4 separate regions of the Homo sapiens genome follow, and regions 1, 3 and 4 are each linked to region 2. Evidence: fine-mapped expression QTL. A gene starts in region 2. Each other region holds a variant in brackets. All regions are shown on one strand. Distances are between the middles of the regions.

Region 1 (6,262 bases), 110 kb after region 2:
AATTTGAACAGTCCCAGACAATATGGGCATCTCCCAAGTCTACCAGACAGTCGTCCTCTGTTGGAGCAACACAGTGTAAGTCTAGCAAGGAATTCAGCCGCAGTGGACCGACTGCTGTTGTCCTAAAGGGCGATTAGGCAGCTGAACCAAGACATGTAAAGAAGCTGCTAGGAGAATATTCTACCACTTCTGTCAATTTAAGTAGCACTGCCAAGTCATAGTGTTCTCTGAAAGTTCAGTTAGTCCTGGTTTATGGCCCAGAGCACTTAGCATAGATCAGCCCATTAGCCCTCCCTGCATTCCTCTGAGTCAGGGAGCTGACAAGTGGAAATAACCCAGTTTCCAAATGTGGACTCAGAGGTGCAGAGGGTTTAAACAACTGCCACAGGATCACTAATTCAGGCAGTTGAGCGGTGCACATGTAAGACCAAGAATGTATCAAAAGGGTCCATAAGACTGAGCATAGTAACCATTCCAGCACCAATGTTCCTTTAAGTAGCAGATACTCAATGCTGTGCACCATAAAACACCTCTTCTCCTTATCCCTAATACTCAGAAGTGAACAGGCTGACTTTTGGCGACATTGTCTATGTAGGGAAGTTTGTCTCCTGGGTCATTTTTTCTCTGAGACAATTTTCTTTCACTCTGTGGCCAAAAGTGTGGACTCTTGGGCTAGAAATGCCAGAAATCAACTCTTGGCCATTCTGCTATGTCCTTGGGCAAGTTACCAAACCTCTCCATGACTTTGTTTCCTTATCTGTAAAATGAGATTAGTAATAGTACCTACCTCAGGCAGGGTGCTGCGAAATTGAAAGAGTTAATTCACGTAAAGCACTTGGAACAGAGCCTGGCACATAAATACTCAATAACCGTGAGCTGTTTCTTTTCTTATCATTTAATATGCTTCCTTTCCTTCTCTGGAAAACCACCTCATCCCAGGGCCTCCCATTCTCTTACTTCCTCTTCCTATCAAAATAGCCAATGATCCACTATCAGCCATTAACATTTAGTGAGCAAAGTTTCATGTCACCTCTGCCAGCTGATTTGCTTGTGGTCAATCTTTGTTTCTAATTGCGTAATGAAAAACTTTATTCCCTGTTTAAGGAATTTCAGGTACCACAAATGTTTTGAGGGGATGAGGGAAAGTGGGAGACGAAAGCAACAAAAAATTCAGTTACCCTTGAAGGTATTCGAAAGAAACCTGCTTAAGGTTCCTCTTCTGCAAAAGCACAGGTCTACCCACCTGACAAGAACTGCCCATCCCCTGCCTTTTTAAAATTGCCCTTCTCGATTCCTATCCTGTTCCTTCCTGGCTCAACAGGAACAATGTTCCTTTTACTCACTCTTAGCATCTGGTCTTTTTTCCTCTCACTCTCAACCAAGACCTCCCTCCAATCAACAGAAGCATGGGGTCTATTTTCATGAATCCTCTGCCCTCCTGGCAACTTTTGACCTAGGTTGTCCTCACTGCAACCTTGCTTTTTTATGATACTGTCGTGTGGACCAAAAGTGAGAAGATCGGAGCAGTAAAAGTATAATTTTCATGTATGAAAGTAACACCAGCTACATATGTAATTGCTTACCAATTATGTCTCTTTGCCTATCAGTGTCATAATAGCGTGTGATTAAATATATAAAATATTCACTTTATTAGTCTTTACTTGGAAAAAGCTAAACTCACATATGCTTAGCCTTTTTAATGAGTGACTCTTGTAGCATTACCATTTGATCATAGCGTGGGTCATTGTGTCCTGCCTCCAGGTGCATGTAATTAAATACATGAAACTCAACTCTCAACCCTAAGTGAGCTATGTGGGAGGGTAGATAGGATAGAAAGAATTCAAAGGCCTGAGATTACTTTCTCCCAGGGCCTGTTCCTAAACTGTACCACCCAGAGGTAATATTTTTAAACTATAAGGCTTAAAAGGCAGCGATTCTCAGATGTAACTTCCAGTCATCCATGAATGACAATCTACCTTTTAAAGACTTTTTATTTCTTTATTTTTTTAACAGAAATAGAGATCATAGCTCATATCACCGTTTTAAATGTCATAAATAACTTGGTTCATCAGAAACACCAGGCAGTTTTTCTTATAGCTTGGGGAAAGCTTGAGGTGGTTGTTGACCTCTTAGTCTTTGTTTTCTGACTAGCTCATTACTCTTTTTAAATGTTCTTTATTAAAGCCCCATTATTTACATTTTTATATGAAGAAATGTTATATTTTAATAAATAAATTTTTATTCATTACCTCACCAAGATTATATTATATGTTTTAACGCTCCTTTGTTTACTCATAGTACCCTCCAAAATAACAGGTTTTATTTCTTCTAAGTTAGTGTCTCCTGTTAACTGTTTTCCTTGGCAGTGTCAATCATATACCCTTCAAAAAAGACCAGGATCATGTCTGTTTGCCTAGTCACCAAGATGTTAGAAGGAATTCTCTCAGTGGAGCCAGCTTTATAAGTTGCCAGTGGTTATTTTAGCATGAGTGGGCCAGATGTAAAGGACTCAACCTCACTATAATCACCATAGGATATATAGCTTTGTTTTTTGGCCCAGTAATGGAGTGGTTTCCAAACTGTGTTCCATAAAAACTTCAGGGGTTTGACAAGAAATCTTTGAATATCTGGCCGGGCACGGTGGCTCACACCTGTAATCCCAGCACTTTGGGAGGCCGAGGCGGGCAGATCACTTGAGGTCAGGAGTTCGAGACCAGCCTGGCCAACATGGCAAACCCCTGTCTCTATTAAAAATACAAAACTTAGCTGGACATGGTGGCACGCACCTGTAATCCCAGCTACTTGGGAGGCTGAGGCAGGAGAATTGCTTGAACCTCGGAGGCAGAGGTTGCAGTAAGCTGAGATCATACCACTGCTCTCCAGTCTGGGTGACAGTGAGACTCTGTCTCAAAACAAAAACCAAAAACAGACTGGGTGTGGTGGCTCACATCTGTAATCTCAGCACTTTGGGAGGCTGAGA[C/T]GGGCAGATCACGAGGTCAGCAGTTCAAGACCAGCCTGGAAAACATGGCGAAACCCCATCTTTAGTAAAAACACAAAAATTAGCCAGGCGTGGTGGCGGGCTCCTGTAGTCCCAGCTACTCAGGAGGCTGAGGCAGTAGAATTGCTTGAACCCAGCAGGTGGAGGTGGCAGTGAGCTGAGATCGTGCCATTGCACTCCAGCCTGGGTGACAAGAACAAGACCCTGTCTCAAAAACAAAAAACAAAAAACAAAAAACAAAAACAAGAAATCCTTGAGTATCTTAGGGGAAAAAAATGTATCACAATGTATATTTTTGGTTGGTGTCCCAGTTCCTCTGCACCAATCACCACCTCGTGACAAACTACTACTCCACTCGCAATTACATAGGAAATTTGTGAATGCTTGGCCACATGTATGATTCAAATTTAATAACTCAAATCTTATTTTGTATGTATGCTGTATTTATTGAGTTCTTATATATCAGCACTTAATTGGATTGATTGAATTAGTCCTCTTAACAATTCTATGAGGTGGGTGCTCTAATTATCTTCTTTCACAGATGAGGAAGCAGAGACTTAGAGAGGTGAGGAAACTTGCTCAAGGTCTCAGAACAGAAGGAATTTAGTCATGATTGTAACCCTGGCATTTGGCTCCAAAACCCATGCTTTTAAACACCACGCTCTGCTACCTGTGAGAGGCAACTGCAGGGGAATAACATTCTACGAAATGAAGCATTCCTTTTATACAGTAAGCTTGGCCCGCCTTCTCCAACATACCCCACCTTGACAAATGTATAAATTATAAGCTTGGATTTTTAGGTGTCCACGTTAATCATGTACTGGGGAGGGGGGCACCCTGCAGATGAACCCTGGGGCTGTTTTCCATGCAGCTAGTTGAAAGCCTGCCTATATTCCCAAGCTTCACTTGCTAGTAGAATGGCAATGACTTCCTTCTCTGATGACCGGTCCTGTGGCACAACCTCCTCCCAAAGGCCCTTGGGTCAGCATTGCTCAGGGAGGGGAAGTGCGGTCCCTCAACTCTCCCCTGGCACCACCCACCCCTCGCCAGTTTTTCAGCTCCTGGCTGCTTGGGAGACCAATGAGCTATCCCTGGAGGTTGCCCTCACCTCATTGCCTACAGGTTTGCAGAAACCTTCACTAGGGGCAGTTTCTGTGTGTCTCGGAGAGGTTGATGGATTGCTGTTCTCTTATTATTCAATCATATCAGTCTCTAGCTTGAGATTTCCTGGGAGCAAAAGAGTTTATATTGCTGGTGCCTTATTGCTGCTGACCCTACCAAATCTCTAGCTACCAAATGCAGTCCCCTGGAGCTCACTGAGGTCTGCAAACAAGCTCTTGCTGACTGCACTCCCAAAGGTCCTTCATTCCTCACTCCCCCATAGTCCATCCCTTATGGGAAGTAGTTATTCTGGGACTATAGTCATGACGACTGTTCAGTGGCCCAAGAAACCCATAACTCTGTCTCCCTCAGGCACATGGAGCCCTTGCCTCTCAGGGTTTCTACTCCATGGACAGGAATAAGGTAGACAGGCCTTCTGTCCTTCTCAGTAAGTCTTGGAGCTCTTACTTGTTCTTCAGTCCCACAAAGATAACCTTGTTTACCCAGTAGCAGTTTTCTCTACTGGAGGTACAGACCAGACTCTTGGGAGGATGGATTAGAAGAAGCAGTGGCAAAAATTGATCCAAGTTTCCTTCTTCCCAATGATTCTAGGATTATATGCCCTTTTAGTGACTCTTCTGGGCCCAAGTCAATCTCATCTATCTTGTCCACCCTTCACTTGAGCACCATTTTCTTTATTGTTGTGATGGTTTTTCTTTAATGGCAGGAATCCAGGAGTCATCCATCTATCCATCCATCCAACCAACCAACCATTTATCCATTCATCCATTCATTCAACCATCCATCCATCCAACCATCCATCCATTCATCCATCAATCCCTCTGTACATTGATCCACTCACTTTGTATAAAGCATTTACTGAGCCCTTCCTGTTAGTGGCTTTTTAAGCATTTGGACTTACAGTGATTAATAATACACAGTCTCTGCACTTGAAGAGCTTATAGTCTATTGGAAAAGACTGAAAAATAAGTAGGTAATTACAGTATCACATATTGTTATAAGAAATGTATACCATTTCCGAGCACTGAGGGAGGCACCTGCAAATGACCTTGACCTTCCACGTCTCTCTTTGAGGGTAAGGCATATCCTATTCCATTGTGATTACTGACCAACCTCCATAGACTCTTCAGGGTCTGCGCTAAAGTTCAGTTTGTAAAAGGGAAGTGGAAAATGCTGCACCCTTTGCTAATGAACCAACCCACTTCAGAAGCAAAGGTAATATATCAGTGATACTGGGAGAAAACATGTTTTGTAGCTTAAGTCAGCTTTTCTTCCTTTCCTTTTTAAAATGAACTACTTAGAGCACTGGCAAATGTTAATATCCGAAGTATCAGGGTCCTTATCTGGTCAATTCTTCAAACTACAAATTAACTTTCCAGTGTTCAGTGGGTATGTTGTAATGTTCACAGTTAAAAGTGCTTCAGAAAAACAATTATTTTGTCACGCACCTCAACTCTGAACATGTTGATGAAGCAAACTATCTTGGAGTTCTTTCTTGATATTCTAGACCCAGTGGGACATTCATGTTTCTGATGAGTCTTAACTTGGATCACCCCTGCTGCTTCATGGCAACCTCTGCAGACTTCCCAGAATAATTTTGACTGACACTTGCTCTATTTTCCCCAGGTCAACATTTTGCCCTTCATCCTACTATTTCAAAAACAGGTCATTGGGCCAGGCGCAGTGGCTTATGCCTGTAATCCCAGCACTTTGGGAGGCCAAGGCAGGCAGATCACCTGAGGTCAAAAGTTTGAGACCAGCCTGGCCAACGTGGTGAAACCCCGTCTCTACTAAAAATACAAAAAATTAGCCGGGCATGGTGGCAGGTGCCTGTGATCCTGGCTACGCGGGAGGCTGAGGCAGGAGAATCGCTTGAACCCAGGAGGCGGAGGTTGCAGTGAGCAGAGATTGTGCCATTGCACTCCAGCCTGGGCGACAAGAGTGAAACTCTGTCTCAAAAAAAAAAAAAAAGAAAATCATTAAATTAAAAGTCTTTTCATTCTTGGATCCCCAATTTAGTCAATTCTTCCCCTGTGCAAGACACCCTGATATTTACAACAAACACTCTTGAGTGTCTTCGCCATTGTTGGCCTGACCCAGTAATGGCTCCAACATTCAACATCCATCTTTTTCAAGCTGAAA
Region 2 (6,262 bases):
CAGACAGAAAACCTAAAAATTTAAGCCCAAGATCAAGTAGTTATGTAATGACAAAACTGGGACTTCTGATACAGTACATCAAGTATTTTGTTATCTGCAAATATAAAACAATTTCCCAAGGTTCAAAGTATTGCCACAAAAATATATGAATTGTTGCCTATAGCATAAAACATGTATATAATTTCAAATTCACTTCTGCTACCCAAAATACATCCCATCTTTGCTGTCTCTATAGCTCTAAGAGCTTTATGCCTACTAGGAGAGGAGGAAGGTGAAAACAATTAAGGGGAAAATGCAGGAAAAGAATAAACAGCAAGCTAGTTGAGATAAAACTATCAATAGAAATGGCTGTTAGGATTAATAGCTGCTGAAAAGATAAGACTGAAAAATGGGGTAATAGAACTGTTTCTGGAGAGTTCTCACCCTGCAGAAGAAAAAAATAGAAAGACAGGAGCAATGTAAAAGTACTGGAATGCATGTTATATAAGCCAGCTGATTAGAGTGATCAGAATTCTTGTGGCATAAGGTAACAGAATCTGCATTTTAAAACCAGAGCAGGTGGTCCCTAAGAGCACATTTTGGAAAACAATGGTCTGCGGGATATTGTGATCTGGGAGGGTTAAAGATAAGAAAAATTCTTGTTCAGGAGTTCTAGGCCATTAACTAGCTTGGTTTGATTCTTTCAACCAACCAGGCAAAGGAAATGCCCTCGGCAAAACACATTAAGGCTGATTCTGTTCCCAGTCCAGGCAGTCAGACAAGGTGGCTGCCACAGAGCCACCCGCAAGGAGCCAGAGAACATTATGTAATCACTGCCCAAGCTCTGAAATGAAGAGATCAGAACTTCTTTCACAAAAGTCTGTCATTAAGGTTTTCCTTTTCCCGTTAAGCGACTGACTGATTATAAGGATTCTACTTTTAATGTAGAGAAATATTTTGTCATCCCCTAAAGAAGTCTTTCAGCTTATAGCTGGAAAAAGAATTAGTCATTTTTTATCTACCAACTCATCCGTGACTGCTGGGTGGTTTACAAAGACGACTCTGGCCCTCACTCTTTAGTCCCAGTAGTATTTTTCTTTGGATATGGAGGATCTGAGAAAATAAAAAATGGAAAACAAAGCACGGAGCTACCAATGATTACTTATAGCTGCAATGACCACAAAATTTAAATATGGTGAACTCGTGAGCAATTTTGAGAATCTGGCAGAGTCACTATTTCAGAAATGACAAAAATTGTCAGAAGTCAGATTTAATGGTGCTCAGCAAATGTAATTCTGATGTTTGTCCAGAGTTTCAAATCTCCACTACAGCGGAACAGAGAAAAGCTGTCTGAAGTGACATCATCCAATGCTCGCTCACTCTCTCCTTTCTAAATGGGAGCAGTTATATTTGTTAATAGGATTTTTAAATGTATGTGTGTATATATATATATGTGATAGCATTAAGACTACATATATTTGAGACTGTTGTGACTGGATACTTGACTCTCAATCTATTTTAGGTACAACGAATGTTAGATAAACAAAGAGCTAACATAATAATTTGCTACTGCAATTTTCATCTGTGCATTCCAAACATTTTCTTTAAAGACCAAGATTGTTTGCAATGGCTTCAGGAAAACAATACCAATACGAAAACCAAAACCTTTAATCCTTTTAGGGAATCAGTTCACTGTTCCTATTTCAAGGCAAGGCAAGTCATTTAGAAATCAACCTCTGACGTGTCTGTTTTTATCAGAACATTTCCAGAAAGTAAGATTACCATTATATTCTGAAGATAGATTATATTCAGAATATAATAAATTATAATATGATGTCTAGATTACCATTATATTGTGAATTTTTTACAGTATATTAGTGGCCTGTTTTTCAGCAATAATTTTCATTCGTCCATATAAAAACTCCCATTATTCATACGTGGCACACCAATTTTTTTAAGTTAAAACTAAATTTACCCTACTGATAATAGGTCTTGAAAAATGCTAACAACAACAAAAAATAAGATAAGCAACATAACTTTACAGTTAATTTCTAATTTTTGCAGCCTAAAAAGGGTCTGGGTAAGAGGCTGTGGGCTTTTTTAACTTATGAGACAATTACACTCATATTTAAGTAAATATGATCGTAACCTACTAAAAGTCAACACAGTAACAGCCCCACTTCATGAATTTTCCTAGGATTAAAGGGAGATTTTGTAAAATAAAGGAGAATTTTATTAGGGACCCGGGGGCAAATTTCTCATGTTTAGTTTCACGCAGCAGGAGTCCTCACAAAGACGCTGATACAATTTAAATGCCAACAATTGGTTTTTCACTAACATCCACATAGTCATTACTGGCCTTTACTAGTAATGGTAAGAGACAGCCCAAACCTACTTCGGGCGGACTGTCCCTTCGTCCCCTCTCCAGGTGAAGTTCACCTGCCACTACCGAAGGGCCGTGGAAAAAGGAGGTAAAGAAACGCTTTTAAAATTAAGACGCTTACAGTTGCTGGACTTAGTCCAAGTGCTGTTCAAGCCTAGAAACGAAAGTGGGAAACAACAGAGGTTTAGGCTTGTAATGATGTCAGCCATTTTAGGTACATTATTTATACTGGGAAGGAAGTGCCAAACTCGGTTGTTGTTGTTGTGCCTGTCGCTGCCGGTCCCCAGATCGAACAAGCCAAGTCCTGGCTGCACGCACGCTCCCCGGACTGCACAAACGACCGGGAATTCGGCACAATTAGCCAATCGTTCCCTCTCCAGGCCTCCCAAGCCCCCGACCCCGCGTCAGGCACCGCTTCCAGCACACGCACTTCCTTACAAAGGAGCTGCGGACCCACAGGAAACGGGAGCGCCGGGCTCTCTCGGGGACTTGTCCCCGCGGCGCGAGCCCCGCGCCCGCCACCTCGGGGCGCACTGCCGCTGCAGTCCGCGCAGCCCTCCCCGGCCGGGCCCAGCACCCGCTTCCTCGACCTCCCCGGGCTCGGACCTTGCAGTCCACCGCGACGGCGTCGGGGGGGATGATGAGCGCCTCCTCGCCGCTCTTGGGCTCGTCCTTCTTGGCCTCCTTCTGGGCCAGAGCGGAGTTGAACGTCACCTTCACCATGGCGCGGCCTGGGGCGCCCTCGAAGGGCGGCGGCGGGCTCGGGGCGCGGGCTGCGGGCTCCCGGCTGCGATTGCAGCCTCTACGGCCGGGCTCCGGGAGCGGCTCCGGGCGGCTGAAGAGGTTCGGGAAGCTCCGCGGCGGCAGAGGCGGCTACTGCGGTAGGGATCTCGCAGCCTCCCAGCTCCCGCGCGAGGGCGGAGACTGCTCGCACATCCCCTGGGAGGCGGGGCGGGGGCGGGGGCGGGGCCAGCGGCCGGGGGTGGGGTGCTGCGCGGGACCCTGCCCTCGCCCCGCAGCTGGGCGCCGGATCCCGGCGCGCCTCGGAGAGGGATGGGTGTCCCTCTGGGCCGCCTGGAATTTCCAGTTCTGAATTCGCTCCCAACCAGGTTACCTCCAGGCCGAGTGCTGCAGGTTTGTAGCGAAATCGAGTGAACTTTCCTGAGTTCGCCGGGTACAAGGGACTAACCTTTGGCAGCACCAGACCGCCGCTTCCCTGTACCCTGTCCCCACCGCGAGCCTAAAGGCCATGGAATTTTTGTGCATCCACATCTTCATTTTCTCACTTATTAGGTAACCGACTCAGTGGAGCACAAACATGTTTAAAGCTCTCTGTCCTTGAGATCTGACTTTATCTTTCACGGACCTCACCCAAGGGCGTTTACCTGGCTCAGACCTGCCTGGTCTTCCTTCCCTCTCTCAGGAGGTCAGGGCCTGTTCTGCCTAGTCCCAGACCAATGTGGAGGAAGCTCTTGGCAGATTTGTATTTCAAACATCTCACACTCGTAAAACGAAATGTTCCACTCTTGTGCGTACTTGGAAAAAAACCACATGCACACTTGGCTGATTTGTGACTCAAAGTACTCGATGACGAGTCCCTTTATTTTTCTGCAAAATGAAAAAATAATTAAGGATAACGCAAAATTCTCATGTTTTGAAGACGTTTCATTTACAACTAATGCGAGGTAGAATACTGGCTCCCGTCGTTACTGCGTTCATTACTGTGTCAACAGACGGCCCCCTTGGACAAATGTGTTATCTTGTATCCTTCCACCCCATTCTGTCCTGGTTCATCCAGAGTTGTGGGTGTGCTCTAGAATGTTACAGCTGTGTCAGCTCTGCCTTGGGCCAACCCTGAAAAAAGTGGGTTCAGTCTGAGATCTTTGGGGATTTGGCCCTGCTCAAGGAGGGAGTTGGGTATTTCCATAGAATGTCAGATCATAAGTCCCAGGGAAACAGCCCAAGATCTCCAAATCCTTCTGTTCATGTATTTCAGAAGCATCCTGGGCTGAGATAGAAACCCAGGCCAGACTTTGAGTTTGCTTTGGGTATTCAGAAATTCCTGTCAAAATGAAATCTGCTCAACCAAGAGGAGGATGAGTTAGGTTCCAGTTCTGGTGAGTTTTAACAGTAGCTAACCATACTTGCAGCAACTTATTTAAACTCCTGGGTCGCCCTTGTGCAGGCATCGGCTCTGTGAGGTTGACTCTATGGACTGGACTTTCATAGTATCTAATGTTATCTAATTCCTCAAAGTCAACGACTGCTTCCAGCTCCCTAGTTTAATAGGTTCCCTGAGACATTACAGTTGAAGACTAAGTATTTCTGGAAGCAAGATCTGGAGGATTATAAATAATTATATGTACATCCTTCCTACTTCGTTCTGTGTTAAAATAAGATGGTAGAAAAATACTCAAGGCATTTTGCAGTAGATGATAGAGAAGAATCTGGCTGTCATTATACTCCGGGGGGAAAAAAGGAATTACAGAAGAAAATAAAACAAAATTCTTCGTGAACAACACTACTGAACAGACTAGGAAGCTGAGGCAAAGGATGAACAAATGAGGTTGACAAAACTAGAAATCCTCCCCGCCCCAGGATTTCTATTTTGAAAGACTCATGAATAAAAGACCATTCATTATTTTGTGTACTTGCAGTGAGCAACAGTTTAAAATCAGTTGGCAACCGGTCTGGGAATAATCTCCTGGTTTTTTTTCTCCATTTTATCTCATGTGTCTACAGAACTGTGTAGTGCACAACAGCAGGGATAATAAAGACGCTGGAGCAAGACCAAACATAGCAAATCCAGTCTTGTGATTTAGAAAAGGTTGCCCGTTGACCCTGAAAACTTAGGAGCCAGGGAGGAGGAGAGTCCATGACTCAACAAAAGAAAGTTAAAAACATAGTTATAAGTTACTATTAACTACCAAATGTAAAGGGAGTCTTAGAGGACCTTTGTTTTCCTTTTTGACGTTGAGTTTGAGAGAGCAAGATGAATCTGATTCCAGCTCTGCATATCACCAGCAACCATGTTTGTTTTTATGCTTACCAAAGGAGGGAGGAAAAAATGGAAGTGGGGAACTGAATTCTAAAATATTTTAATAGATTTGCATTATGTGCTTCAACAGGGATTTTTTTTTTCTTTTTAGGTTCTTTACATCTCTATTCTGTCTGTTCTTTCTCAAGGAAACAATTCCTTATTCAGAGAAATTTCTTGTGGTTTTACAGAATGATTGGAAAACTTTATTTTATTTTATTTTTCACAAGTATAGGGTCCTTGGTGAAACAACGTCACTGAATAAGCCCTTTGAAATGTGCTCCTGTTGCCTCTTCTCTTAACCCAATGTGTGAGTTTAGCTGGTCATCTTGTGGCTTTGTCTGAACTTTCATAAAAGAAGTGTTTCTTCTAGGTGAGAGCTTTGAAGGCTTTGACTGACCTCTTCAGAGACTTAAGCACTGTTTATTTTTCTTACCGACTTCCTATTTCAATATTATATATGCTTTTCAATTATTTTAATTTATTTTATATAAATTATTTTCATGTAATTTTAAAATAATTTATCATTATTTTCCTTGAACTAGCAGATGCATTTTTTTTTCTTTTTCAAATCTTGGGCTCTATAATATCCCGAGACCCTTTAGGAATTATCCTAATAACAAATGCAGATCTCTTTTGATTTGACTGGCTGTGGCACTTGGGATTTTTGTTTTGCTTTGTGAAAAGACTGGATATGCTCTGCACTGATGAAAGAGAGGGAGAAGCTGGGTGAGGTGGCTCATGCCTGTAATCCCAGCACTTTGGGAGGCCGAGGCAGGGAGATCACCTGAGGTCGGGTGTTCCAGACCAGCCTGACCAAAATGGAGAAACCCCGACTCTACTAAAAATGCAAAAAATTGACC
Region 3 (6,262 bases), 67 kb after region 2:
AGCTCTACCAGCTTTTTTTTTTGTTACTGTTGGCATGGCATGGCATTTTGTTTCTCCTATTCTTTTTTTTTTTTCTGAGACAGGGTTTGTCTCTCTCTCTTGCCCAGGCTGGAGTACAGTGGCATGATCATGGCTCACTGCAGCATCGGACTCTTGGGCTCAAGAGTGATCCTTCCACCTCAGCCTCTGGAGTAGCTAGTACTACAGGCCTGTGCCCACCATGCCCAGCTAATTTTTATTTATTTTTATTTTTTTGATACTGAGTCTTGCTCTGTTGCCCAGGCTGGAGCACAGTGGCATGATCTCTGGTCACTGCAACTTCCACCTCCCAGGTTCAAGTGATTCTCCTGCCTCAGCTTCCAGAGTAGCTGGGACTATAGGCTTATGCCACCACACCCAGCTAATTATTGTATTTTTTTTAGTAGAGATGGGGTTTTGCCATGTTGGCCAGGTTGGTCTTGAACTCCTAGCCTCAAGTGATCCACCCGCCTCGTCCTCCCAAAGTACAGGAGTACTGGAATTATAGAAGTGAGCCACTGTGCCCAGTCTCCATGTCTCCATTCTTTTTCTTTAAACTTTGTGTCTTCTATTTAAATTGAGTCTCTCTCTCTCTCTTTTTTTTTTTTTTTTTTTGAGACAGTCTCATCTGTCACCCAGACTGGAGTGCAGTGGCGTGATCTTGGCTCACTACAATCTCTGCCTCCTGACTCAAGCGATTCTCCTGCCTCAGCTTCCTGAGTAGCTGGAATTACAGACATGCACCACCATGCCTGGCTAATTTTTATATTTTTGGTAGAGACAGGGTTTTGCCATGTTGGCCAGGCTGATCTTGAACTTCTGGCCTCAAGTAAACCACCCTCCTTGGTCTCCTAAAGTGCTGGGATTTCAGGCATGAGCCACTGCGCCCAGCCTAAATTGAGTCTCTTGTAAACAGAATACGTATTTTTCTTTTTTGTCTTAAAGTAATTCTGATCTTCTAATTGGGGTACTAATCCATTAACATTTAATGTAATTATTGAAATATTTATGTTTAACTCTATTACCTTGTTAACTTGTTTCTATTTCTGTTCTTTATTTCTCCTTTCTTGCTTTTTGAGGGGAGAGAATCAAGTACTTTTATTATTCCTTTTTTTCCTCTCTTGTTTTAACTTATTGGTTATCAGCTTTAAGAGGGGGTCTCACTCTGTTGCCCAGCCTGGAGTGCAGTGACTATTCACAGGTCTTTCTCGGGGTTTCAACCAATAGTTTTTACCTATTCACCTTGGTGGGCTTTGTTTTTCTATCTTCTCAGTACCATGCTGCTGCAAAAATCTTTGCCCAGCTCTCCAGCCTCCTAGCTGCTGCTTTTCTTTTGGTTCTCCTGCAGTCTCTGCTTGTGCTTGCTCAGCTTAGGAGTTTGCAGACATCTCAAGGGGAGATTGCATGTAGCCTTTTGGGTTTATTTCTCTGCAACTCTCTCCTCCTTGAGATTTTACCATCAAGTCGCAGCCACTTGAGCAGCTTTAAACTCTAATCCGTCTCTTCAGCCTAATGGAACTGCCACTTACTTTATTCCCTGACCTGTGAGTTGGGCCAGGGTGAGTATAGAGATCACTTTGATGTGCCTCCCTTCTCTTAGGGATCATCTGTCTTGGTTGCCCTCCAATGCTTTCAAATGTTGTGCTATGTACTTAGTCCATCTGGTACAGTTGTTTTCAACGGGAGGGTTAGCTCAATATAAGCTACGCTGTTATGGCTGGAATCAAACGTCTTCTATTTTACAATAAATAAAAAATCTAAAAGAATTCAAAAGACTGGAATAAGGAAATTACAAAAGCACAAAAACTGAATCACAGATTACAAACTTCAGTCCTAATCTAAAGCCATCCTTAAGTCTTCTGAATTCAGCATTCTGTTTAGAACAAATGCACTCTTTTCTCATCTTCAGTTTGGTTCCTTGGCAAGAGCTTTGACCTAGACTAAGAAAGTCATGGTTTGGTCTCTGGACTTTTATATAAAAAGTATGTGATTCTGGACAAACTTATTTTTATCACTTAGTTTTATCACTAGTCAGGGAAGATGGCCCTTAAAGCCTGCTTGCCTTAAGTCCTTTAAGGAATAAGCTGGGTATAAGTAAATAAATAAATACAATGTGAAGTGCTTGCCCTGTCTTCCTTGCAGAGTTGATATGAGGTCAGCTTAGCTGTAGAGGCAAAGTTCACAAGGGTGCCTTCCCCATAGGGATGTGGGTGCTTTTACAAATTTTCCAGCTCTTGGACCATTTCTTCTCATGCTCTATTTTTCTCTTATCCCCTAATTAGAGCTGTGAATTAGACAAAAACATGATTGCAATTTCCTCCCCCATCTGGGTCAGATTGTCCTGCCTAACCTCTAAAATAAAAGAGAACACAGGTGTTTGAGTGGGATGCCGGGTCAGGAGAGCTGGCTGGCCAGGTGAGCCTGACCGGAGAAAATTCCCTGTGGACAGGCCAAATAGGACCCCAAACTATCAGAAAGGTTTTGGTCAATGTGGAATCTGAACAAAAAGGGCTGTTTATGTAATTCAAAAGTAGAACAGTATTAAGTTCAGGCAGCCAGATGGATGTGTTCTCATGATTGGAATGACCTTTTGGGCTGAATTTTGGGGCCTGATGGGACATGCCTTCAGAGGCACAGCCTCACTTTGTCTCTAACTCTGCTTTTTCTAGGCTTTGTGTCTGACAATCCCCTTCTAGTTGTCATATCCTCCTTTAGGTGTTTTACCAACTTCAGCTTGGTTGATATCCTGCTGGTCTCTTCATGGTCACCTTATGTCTCTGCTCAGGTGCTTTATGTGCTCAATTTCCATTGTTTTTAGAGCACATTGTTGCTTTCTGTTCCCAAATTTGCAGGGAAGACCTTATTATAATCCCCATGTCCACAGTGCATAATGGACCAGGTGCTTTATCTCCTGATCTTCACTCCAGTCTGGAAGGTCATCAGCTTCATTTCCACAAAGATGTGGAAGCTGAGGATGATAGAGGCTAAGGATCTGCCCAAGGTTGGACAGCTTGAATGTCACAGAGTTTGTGTTCAAACTGAGGGCTTACCCCAAACTCAGAGTTCTGCCTGCTGCTGCTGTTGCTGCTGAATAAGCACCAGGTTGTGAATTATTCCAAATTTTCAAGTCACCTGTAGAGGAAAGGGGAACTAAAAGAAAAAGTGATTTAGTCAAACAAAAAACTTCCCAATGTAGCATACCTTTATGTCTTTTTGCCTTAATTTGTGTTTCTTTTCCTAGAATTCCGTCTGTTTATATCTATTGAACACCTACTATGTGCCAGGAACACATAGTAATACAAAAGACATGAAGGCTATGATCTAGTAAGAGTGTAATTGGTACAACCTCTGAAGACGGTAAGTTAGCAATATTTTTCATCTTCCAAATGTGTATAATCATTGACCAGAAATTCTACTTCTGGAATTACTCACATATGTCCATAAAGCCTATAGTCTAACTGTGAATATTGGAATATACATAATAAATGCAAAGTATATAATCCCAAATTGAGATAAGTATCACAAAGGAAAAAAGAGGTGCATTAATCAGGGTTAGACCAGAGAAACA[G/C]TGCCAGTATATAAATATATATATATATGCGTATATACATATATACACAGACAGAAGGAGAGCAAGAGATTTGTGACAGGAGTTGGCTTATGTGATTGTGGGGACTGACTAGGCAAGTCTGAAACTGTAGGACAGGCCAGCAGGCTGGAAACTCTTGAGCAAGAGCTGATGTTGCAGTCTGCAGGTGGAATTTTTTCTTCTTCAAGGAAACTTGTTTATTCTCTTAAGAACTTTCAATTGATTGGATGAAGCCCACCCAGATTAGCAAAGATAATCTACTTCAAGTCATTTTTAGTAGATGTTATCACACCTGCAAACCTTACTAGTAACTCCTAGGTTAGTGTTTGACTGAATAACTGGGTACTGTAGCCTAGCCATGTTGACACATAAAATAAACCAGCACAAACAGGTCAAAACTATGTTGCTTAAGATGCATTCAACAGCAAGAAACAGATAATCTAAATCCAACTACCTTAAACATAGGAAATGTATTGGCCTACAGCATGGGTTGTCCAAACATAGGCTGGGGTGTCTGGCTCTGGCCGTCCACTTGGCCCTCCCACCTCTGGGGGAGGGATTTGTGCTCAGGCTGCCGGACAAGATGGTGGTGGCAGTTCCAGACCTCATCTTCTGTATAAGGAAGAGAGAAATTATCTCTTCCTGCAACTCTCTGAAGAGTAGGAAATTTTTCAGATGCCTCCAGCAAAACTCTTGTCACATCTCATTGGCCTGAACTGAGTCATGAGTCCACTTTTGGGCTAATCTCTGTGACTAGGGAATAGCATGCACTAAATGACTTAGTACTGAGGTCCTGAGTCAGTCACCAGTGAGAGGAATAGATGACTATAATTCCCTTAGTCCGGAGCCTCCCTATCTTTTCAACAAATAATAATGCTTACATAGCTAGCAGATTGGAATGACTCAAAGCAAGCATCCTGGGCCTCCAGGTGGCCCAGGATTCAGCTGGCTATCCCAAAGGATAAATGTCTTTGCATATCAATGGGTGGCAGTATATATATTGGATTAGACCACCTGGGGACAGGATCCATTCCTAAACTACAAGGCTTCTACCCAATGTGGGAGGAGTGCAATGGCTATTGAGCAGACCATGGGTAGCGAGGGGTAGGAAAGGTTTAAGAATCAAGGATGTTTCCCAGGGTTCTGGTTTCAGTAACTGGGTAAATTCCAGTGGTGTCCTGGGTCTCAATTGCACTGGCTCTCAAGAGCCAATTGTATGCATTTTGTCCCAACTCCATGTTCATTGGTGGGAACCGATACAATTGATACAAATTGGCAAATGATACAAATCAGTGCTTTTTATTGTGGTGGGGAGGTATCTTTTGTTCAACCTTGATCAGCACATCATTAGTAGAGCCATGCCAAAAAGACAGGTGCACTGGAGGAAGGACAGGCTTTGCCTTTAGCTCCCTGTTGCAATCCTGCTCCTTTTTTTTGTTGTTGTTGTTAAATTGAGGTAAAATTTACATAACATAAAATCCACTATCCTTTTCATCCTTTTTGAAGTTCACTCAAACTCATGTATTACTGCTTCTTTATTTATTCTTCATTATAATAGTATATTTCTTTTTAGGCTGGATGTGGTGGCTCACACTTCTAATCCCAGCACTTTGGGAGGCCGAGGTGGGCAGATCACTTGAGGTCAGGGGGTTGAGACCAGCCTGGCCAACATGGTGAAACCTCATGTCTACAAAAATACAAAAATTAGCCAGGCATGGTGGTGCATGCCTATAATCCCAGCTGCTAGGGAGGCTGAGGCCAGGAAAATCACTTGAACCCAGGAGGTGGAGGTTGCAGTGAGCTGAGATCCTGCCACTGCACTCCAGCCTGAGCAACAGAGCAAGACCCCATCTCAAAATAAATAAATTAATAATAATAATAATAATAATATTTTATTTATTTTTGAGAAAGTAATACATTTACATGGTTCAAAATGCAGAAGGTATATACAAAAAAGATATACAGTAGAAGGTCTGTCTCCCCGTCTGTCCCCCAGCTGGCCAATTTCCTTTTCTAGAGATAAGTGAATGGATTTTTAAAATATACTTCCAGAAAGTTATACAATAATAAATATTTAGAATATTTCTAAATGCATTTGCACACGTGTTACCCACATATACATGCACACACACACGCATTGCTCTCTCCTTGCTTTTCTTCATTTAATAAAACATCTTGAAGATCATTCTATACCAGTACATGCAGAACTTCCTTAGTCTCTTCTACAGTTCTGCATAATAATCTATTTGCAAATCAACAGAGCAGTTGCAAATAAATTTCTCTGTACTTGCTTTTTTCATATATATGGGTATATCTATAGGATAAAGTCCTACAAGTAGAATTTCAGGTCAGGGTTATATACATTTGCAAAATAAAAGATATTGTTTAAATTGCCTTCTGGTGAGATGGTACCACTTTACATTCACTAGCAACAGGTAAGATGCTTGTTTTCTCACAGCCTTGCCTGCAAAGTACATTATCAAACTTTTTGCAGTCTGTCGATCTGATAGGCAGAGAATGATATATTAGCGTAATTTAAATTTAAATTATATTTAAATATGGTAAAATTGAATTATTTAAATTAACTTATGAAAACATTTTCTTACATGTTTATGAGGCACCTCTATTTCCTTTTTTGTAAACTATCTGCTTGTATCC
Region 4 (6,262 bases), 74 kb after region 2:
AGAGAAAGCTGTTAAGTATTGGTAACTGGGCTTTATACAAATGAGAAATTTCCCTGTCTTTGGTGAGTGGCAGCAGAAGCATATAGCTACCTGCTTAAAACGATAGATGTCTATGTGTGCTTTAATCTCTTATTAAGCATTCTGTGTGTGGGGAGAGTGGAACAGGGAGCACAGGTTGTTATGACACTTGAGAAACTGAGTTACACAATTCATTGATTTTTTTTTTTTTGATGGGGAGATTATACAAATCAGAGAAGGAATCAAATATAGAAAAAGCTCTTTTTTGCGCCTCTGCTTTCAGTTGCATGGTTAGTTCCTCCTGTTATCAAGAAGTTCCTTGTTTATTTCTTGATGGGGTAGCATAAGTTTTGCTATTAACTATCACCACACAAAACAAAAATGAGCACAGTGAAAAATACATTAAATATTTCATATGAAAGAAAGTAAAGTTCCTAGCCATAAAATAAAACATTTTGGTCATTGTTTTGGAGGATGGAGAATATCATCTTGACCAAAGCTAATCTTGGCATCAGCATCTGTAGCTAGTGGAAACATCAACAGTCATTGTTTATGAGGGGAGAGAGGAAAGGAAAAAGGAGGAACTGCAGATAGCTGACAGAGTGACCGGAGGTTGTGGCTCTGTCACAAGCTGGTCTCCGGAAATGGTCTAGGCCCGGGAGATGAGGGCTTCTTTGGTTGGAGGAAGTAAGTGGCCAGGGCAGTGTGTTCATTATGGGCTTCACCTTCTCCATGGGGTGCTGAGCAACTGAGCAGAGCTGGGAGGTCGGCGAGGCTGCCTGTTGGAGCTCATGGAGGCATCCCACCTAGAGGAGAAGAGGGCTTGGCCAGCTGAAGCTTGAAAATATCAGTAACTTTGTCTTCCAAACTACACCTAGCAACCCAGAGAATCTGGAGTGACTTACTTCCCCCCTTCTTTTGTCCACACACTCTGCTTTCTTGGCTTGTAGTGGCTTCTTTACCCTTTGTGGGGTCCTTGGTGTTAATTTTCATTTGATTTCACCTGTATGTATTGAAGTGGGGAAAAGGAGGCCAACAGGCAGAAGAGGTACATTATGGTTGTCCCAACTCTACAGAATAACCCTGGGCCCCATGTGCCCTCCCCACCTGAGGAAATCTTACAGAGGGCATGAGCAGAGAGCAACCTGTGGGGTCTTTGCTGCTGCCCCAGGGTGGACTGTTAACCAGGGCTCACTGGTCAGGGCTGATTTTAACTTGTTCTTTGCCAGTTTGAGAAGGAGGGGGATCTTGTCCTTGGTCTTGTTTTTTCAAACCCCCAACTCACCCTTATTATCCTCTGACACTCTTTAGGTGGCCCTGTGGCTCTCAGCACCTGATCAATGATCCCTTCACTCTTAACATCATGAAACAGAGGGAAGACCCTTTTTCCCCTGTCATGGCTGCTAAGCCCATTGAGTAAAAAAGTCCAGCTCACTGACACGACTCTATTCTCAAGTAAAATATTAAACCTATTGAAAACCAAAATGAGTGATTGAAGCATAAGATTCAAATCATCCAGGTTTTGAGCCAGTGTGAGGGCGTGCCCGGGAAAAAAACATGAGTCACAGAAGCATCTGTGGCTGTTTTTTCCAAAGAGATTCTCAGGAGGTTTAGTATTTATTCATTTTCCTTTAAAAGGGGTGGAGGAGGGGTGACAGTGAGACCAATGAGAATGTATTTGTGAGACTTAACTAGTGCCCCCAAAATCTACATTTTACACAAGGTAAGGCCAGCATTGAAGAAAAAGGGAATAGAGGAAGCAGAGGTCTTGGGGAGTGATGAAGGAACCATTAACCTCATCTTGTCTTTGTACTGTGTCTGGGAAGACAAGCTAGTAGTCTGTTGAAAGGGCTGGTTTCTGTTTAGACCTTCGAGAAGGAAACCTAATGACTTTTATCGAGGGAGGAGGTGTCAGACTGTGGCCATGAATTCAGCTTCCAAGGTTTCTTTGGGGCTCCTTTGGCCAAGAGAGGGTCCATTCAGTCAGTTGGGGGCTTAGAATTTTATTTCTCACCATGTTGTGTAAAGAAAGTACTAAATTATTAAGTACATATAAGACAAATATGATTGCATTCCTAGTATGTCTGTGTCTTGAGGGGTAGGAGAAAAAGGAGAAAGAGAATGTAATTGTAGAGAAACCAAGGAGAAAAGAACGAGACAAGATATAGGAAGGGGCCATGGATTCAGTGGAGGAAGGTGACAGTGTTTACTCCTGTATAGCCGCCCTCCCTTTTGACATGCCAAAATTTAAAAAGCCCAACTATTTACAGTTTTCCATTTTGCTTCCATCTTTAACTATAAAGGGTCAGTTCTGATTGAGGTAGCCAAACTGTCGCCACAGTGGAAATCATTTTCTAACCTGGAAAAGCAAGAACTTAAGTTAACTACATCAGGGTCCCATCAGAAGCCAGAGAACTGGAGAACCCATCTATTGCCTGAAGGTCATGGTTGTAGTGAGGACTAGGGGTACAAACTATGCATGTCTATGCCACCAGGAATCTGTATTTGAAGGTCATCTCAAGGATTCTGATACTAGTGAAAATTATTGGCAGGTCTCATAAATATTTGCATTTCAATACAGACCTCTTAAATGCCAAGTCTCCTGCAGTTCACAAAGGAATGAGTCACTAATGGTTAAACTTCAGGCGCCACTACAAGTAGAGATTTGTTTCTCGGGGTGAGGAGGAGGAAAACTTTTTCTAGTTTTTTTCGAATAATTTTTTTTTCTTTTTTAAGTTTTAACTCTGCCATAAGCCAGAGATGCTCTCCCTTAAGAGATCCTTTCTGGAAATATTTATGTCAAAACACCTTCTCCCTATTTTTCACCTCCTTTCTGACCTTGTACATATGCTAAGTGCTGCTTATTCAGTACTTGCTGCTGGGAAAAGGGAGAGGTTGTAGGGGATGGGGCCTCCCTCTCTTCAGTTATTACCAGCTTCTCTGGCTCCCATTTCTGCAGGGTGACAGGGAGGGTCCCACCCACTGTGACTAATGCCCCTGGTGAAGCACTTAATTGCTGCCCCCTGAAGCATCTAGTGGCCCATGTGCTACACCCCCACTCTGAGGATGATCCATAAACTCCTGCTGCTGCAGGGGGTGTTTTGCTGCAGGGGGAGTTTTGGTTTTGGGGATGAAGGTGGAGAATGAGTCACTTTCCATTCATTTTCTAGAACCTTCTACAGCAGAGTGCCTTTAGAGAGTTGGGTAATGTAGCCTCTCCTAGTTAATAAAGCCAATGACAATTTCATGCCTAAGAACGTCATTGGTTTGAGGGCAATGATTTGCATTTAATGAAAATAATAATTTTCCACAGCCTCTGAAAAACACAATTTGGCTTCACTGTAGTAGAAAGTGCTTACTTTCTTTCACACCAGCCCAATGAAGTTTTCAAAGTTCAGAAAACTTTCCTCACTAGCAGTGGATTAATAATTGCAGGTGGAAATGTCTTTGTCAGTGGGGTTGAGGTAACCAGCATGTAGAAGATTCTTGCCACCTAAAGCAAGAGGAACTGGTTTTCTGTGACCGGTTTTGTAACACCAGTGGGAAAGCTCC[A/G]CAGCTGGTTTGTTCTGGATTTTCATGCCTGCCTCCTTCTCAGTCCTCACCTTCTGTCAACCATCTCTCCCTTGGTTTCAATTCCAGAAATGCAATCTTCCTGACATGGCTCTTCTCTGACAACCTGGGTACCCCGCTGCCTCTGGCCGCACCTTGCTTCTAAGACAAATAAGGAACTTTAATTTGGGCTCCCGAGTGGAAATAACAGATAGTTATCAAGAACAGAGGGCTCAGGCTGGGTGTGGTGGCTCATGCCTGTAATCCCACTTTGGGAGGCCATGGCAGGTGGATCACCTGAGATCAGGAGTTGGAGACAAGCCTGACTAACATGGTGAAACCCCGTCTCTACTAAAAATACAAAATTAGCCGGGCATGGTGGCACATGCCTGTAATCCCAGCTACTTGGGAGGCTGAGGCAGGAGAAGTGAGCCAAGATCATGCCATTGCACTCCAGCCTGGGCAACAAGAACGAAACTCTGTCTCAAAAAAAAAAAAAAAAGTAGAAGAACAGAGGGCTCTTGCTTGGGCTTGCTCAGAAAATCCCCACTTCAGAGGAGGGTGCAGCTGTCACTCCAGCTTCCTGGTTATGCATCCCTTGTCAAATTAACAGGAAGTTTAATTCTATTAAATATTAATCCTTGTCCTGAAGGCCTTGGTTGCTTTAGTAGAGAGAATTGAGGGTAGAAGGTGAAAGAAAAGAGAAAGGGAAAGAGCATGTAGAAGGCAAACAGAGGAAGAGAGATGAAGTCAGGGAGGATCAGAAGGTAGAGGGAAGAGAATATGAGGGAGAGGATGGCAGTTCAGCAGGTTAGTGGGGGAGTTTCTGATCTCACCACCTGCTCTTTGCCGATCAGCTCTCTTGCCACTGTTCCTGGCTCTGTCAGAGCTTTCATTCTTATTTTCTCGGAAAAAAATACATAATTACACAGTGAAGAAAGTCAGGTTAAAAATGGCATGTACAGTATGATTCCCTTTTATATTTATTTATTTATATATATATTTTGAGATGGAGTTTCACTCTTGTCTCCCAGGCTGGAGTGCAATGGCACGATCTCGGCTCACTGTAACCTCCTCCTCCTGGGTTCAAGCAATTCTCCTGCCTCAGCCTCTGGAGTACCTGGGATTACCGGCATCTGCCACCATGCCCTGCTAATTTTTGTATTTTTAGTAGAGACGGGGTTTCACCATGTCGGCCAGGCTGGTCTCAAACTCCTGATCTCAGGTGATCTGCCCACCTCGGCCTCCCAAAGTGCTGGTATTACACACGTGAGTCACTGCCCCCGGCCGATTCCCTTTTAAATACATGTTTGCATAAATATATTGAAAGCTATGAGTAAACATTTTCATTATTTTGGAATGGTAGAATTATGAATTCATTTTTATTTTCTTCTTTTTTGCTTATCTATATTTTCTATAATGAATATCTATGCATATAATAGTAAAGTTCAAGTTATATTAAAAGTGAGGGGAGGCCAGGCATGTTGGCTTATACTTGTGATCCCAGCACCTTGGGAGGCTGAGGCAGGAGGATCATTTGAGAGCAGCCTGCGCAACTTAGAGAGCTCTCCATCTCAAAAAATAATAATAATAATAAATTAATAAAATAGAAAGGAAAGGACAGAGTCAGAGGAAGAAAAATATGGAGTTGGGAGGAGAGCACAATGTTTTTTGAGGCACATGATGATCCAGATAATCTGTTGAACTATACATTTCCCAGAGTTAATTGACTGATCTTTGCATTCAGTAGCCATTTGACTACTATGTTCAGTGTTTTAGGGATTCTAATTTTTTTTTTTTTTTGAGATGGAGTCTGGCTCTGTCGCCCAGGCTGAAGTACAGTGGCGCGATCTTGGCTCACTGCAACCTCTGCCTCCCGGGTTCAAGCAATTCCCCTGCCTCAGCCTCCCGAGTAGCTGGGATTACAGGCACCCGCCACCACACTGGGCTAATTTTTGTATTTTAGTAAAGACGGAGCTTCACCATGTTGGTCAGGATGGTCTCGAACTCCTGACCTCATGATCCGCCCGCCTCGGCTTCCCAAAGTGCTGGGATTACAGGCGTGAACCACTGCACCTGGCCTTTAGGGGTTCTAATTCTTGTATCTTTAGAATTGTATTTTTAAACCAAAGGTGCACATGGGAATCAGCAGGGAAACTTTTTCAAAATGTCCTTGCTAGTGTTTTAGAATTTTGCTCCTGGTTTAGCTAAAACCAGGTTCTTGTCACATGACCAAGAAAATTAGGCACGTGGACACATTGAAGGGTGAATAGAGCAGGATTTTATTGGGTGAAAAGGGAAAAATGAAAAAAAACCTCAGCAAAGCGAAAACAGGCTCCCCACTTCACAGATTGAATCCCAGGGCTCCTCCCCCTGCCTGTGACTCCACCCTGCTCCCCCAGGGCTCATGTGGGCATGCTCAGACAAGGCCCTGGGCAAGTTCCTTCGTCTGCACAAAAACATCTGATGTAAACACCTGTGGGGAGGGTTAGAGATTCTCCGGGGACCCCTTTTTATCTGCCTTGGCGTTTGGCTGTCTCATTAGGGCCTTACCCTCAGAAGTTCTGATTCAGAATGCCTCGGTAGGGTCTGAGTAGGAGTCTTTCAAAAACCTTGTCTAAGTGTTTGGATATTCATCGTGGTGGAAAATTCCATGGTGTTTAAGATGATCCACTGAGGTACTCAAGGAAAATAT

What was found. PIP is the estimated chance that this variant, and not a neighbour inherited with it, causes the effect.
Region 1: its variant is the best candidate, but not a certain one, in a credible set for the expression of ITM2B in lung (TOPMed, PIP 0.56).
Region 3: its variant is the best candidate, but not a certain one, in a credible set for the expression of ITM2B in monocytes (TOPMed, PIP 0.61).
Region 4: its variant is the best candidate, but not a certain one, in a credible set for the expression of ITM2B in whole blood (TOPMed, PIP 0.86).

What each region holds. Positions count from the first base shown.
Region 1 is chr13:48,115,951-48,122,212 of GRCh38, reverse strand. All of the region lies in intron 5 of LOC105370198 (a long non-coding RNA gene), which reads left to right. Among named protein-coding and RNA genes, the nearest start is that of MED4, 24 kb to the right of the region's middle. The variant C/T (reference allele first, on the strand shown) is at 2,981.
Region 2 is chr13:48,230,184-48,236,445 of GRCh38, reverse strand. It overlaps ITM2B (integral membrane protein 2B), which reads right to left and starts at 3,240. Exons shown (of 6, transcript NM_021999.5): 1 at 2,969-3,240. The coding sequence starts at 3,085. RefSeq lists enhancers at 340-927, 2,032-2,729 and silencers at 2,785-2,994, 3,005-3,364.
Region 3 is chr13:48,163,389-48,169,650 of GRCh38, reverse strand. It overlaps LOC105370198 (a long non-coding RNA gene), which reads left to right. Exons shown (of 6, transcript XR_007063792.1): 4 at 3,260-3,375. Among named protein-coding and RNA genes, the nearest start is that of ITM2B, 67 kb to the left of the region's middle. The variant G/C (reference allele first, on the strand shown) is at 3,587.
Region 4 is chr13:48,156,399-48,162,660 of GRCh38, reverse strand. All of the region lies in intron 4 of LOC105370198 (a long non-coding RNA gene), which reads left to right. Among named protein-coding and RNA genes, the nearest start is that of MED4, 64 kb to the right of the region's middle. RefSeq lists enhancers at 2,346-2,956, 5,927-6,046. The variant A/G (reference allele first, on the strand shown) is at 3,571.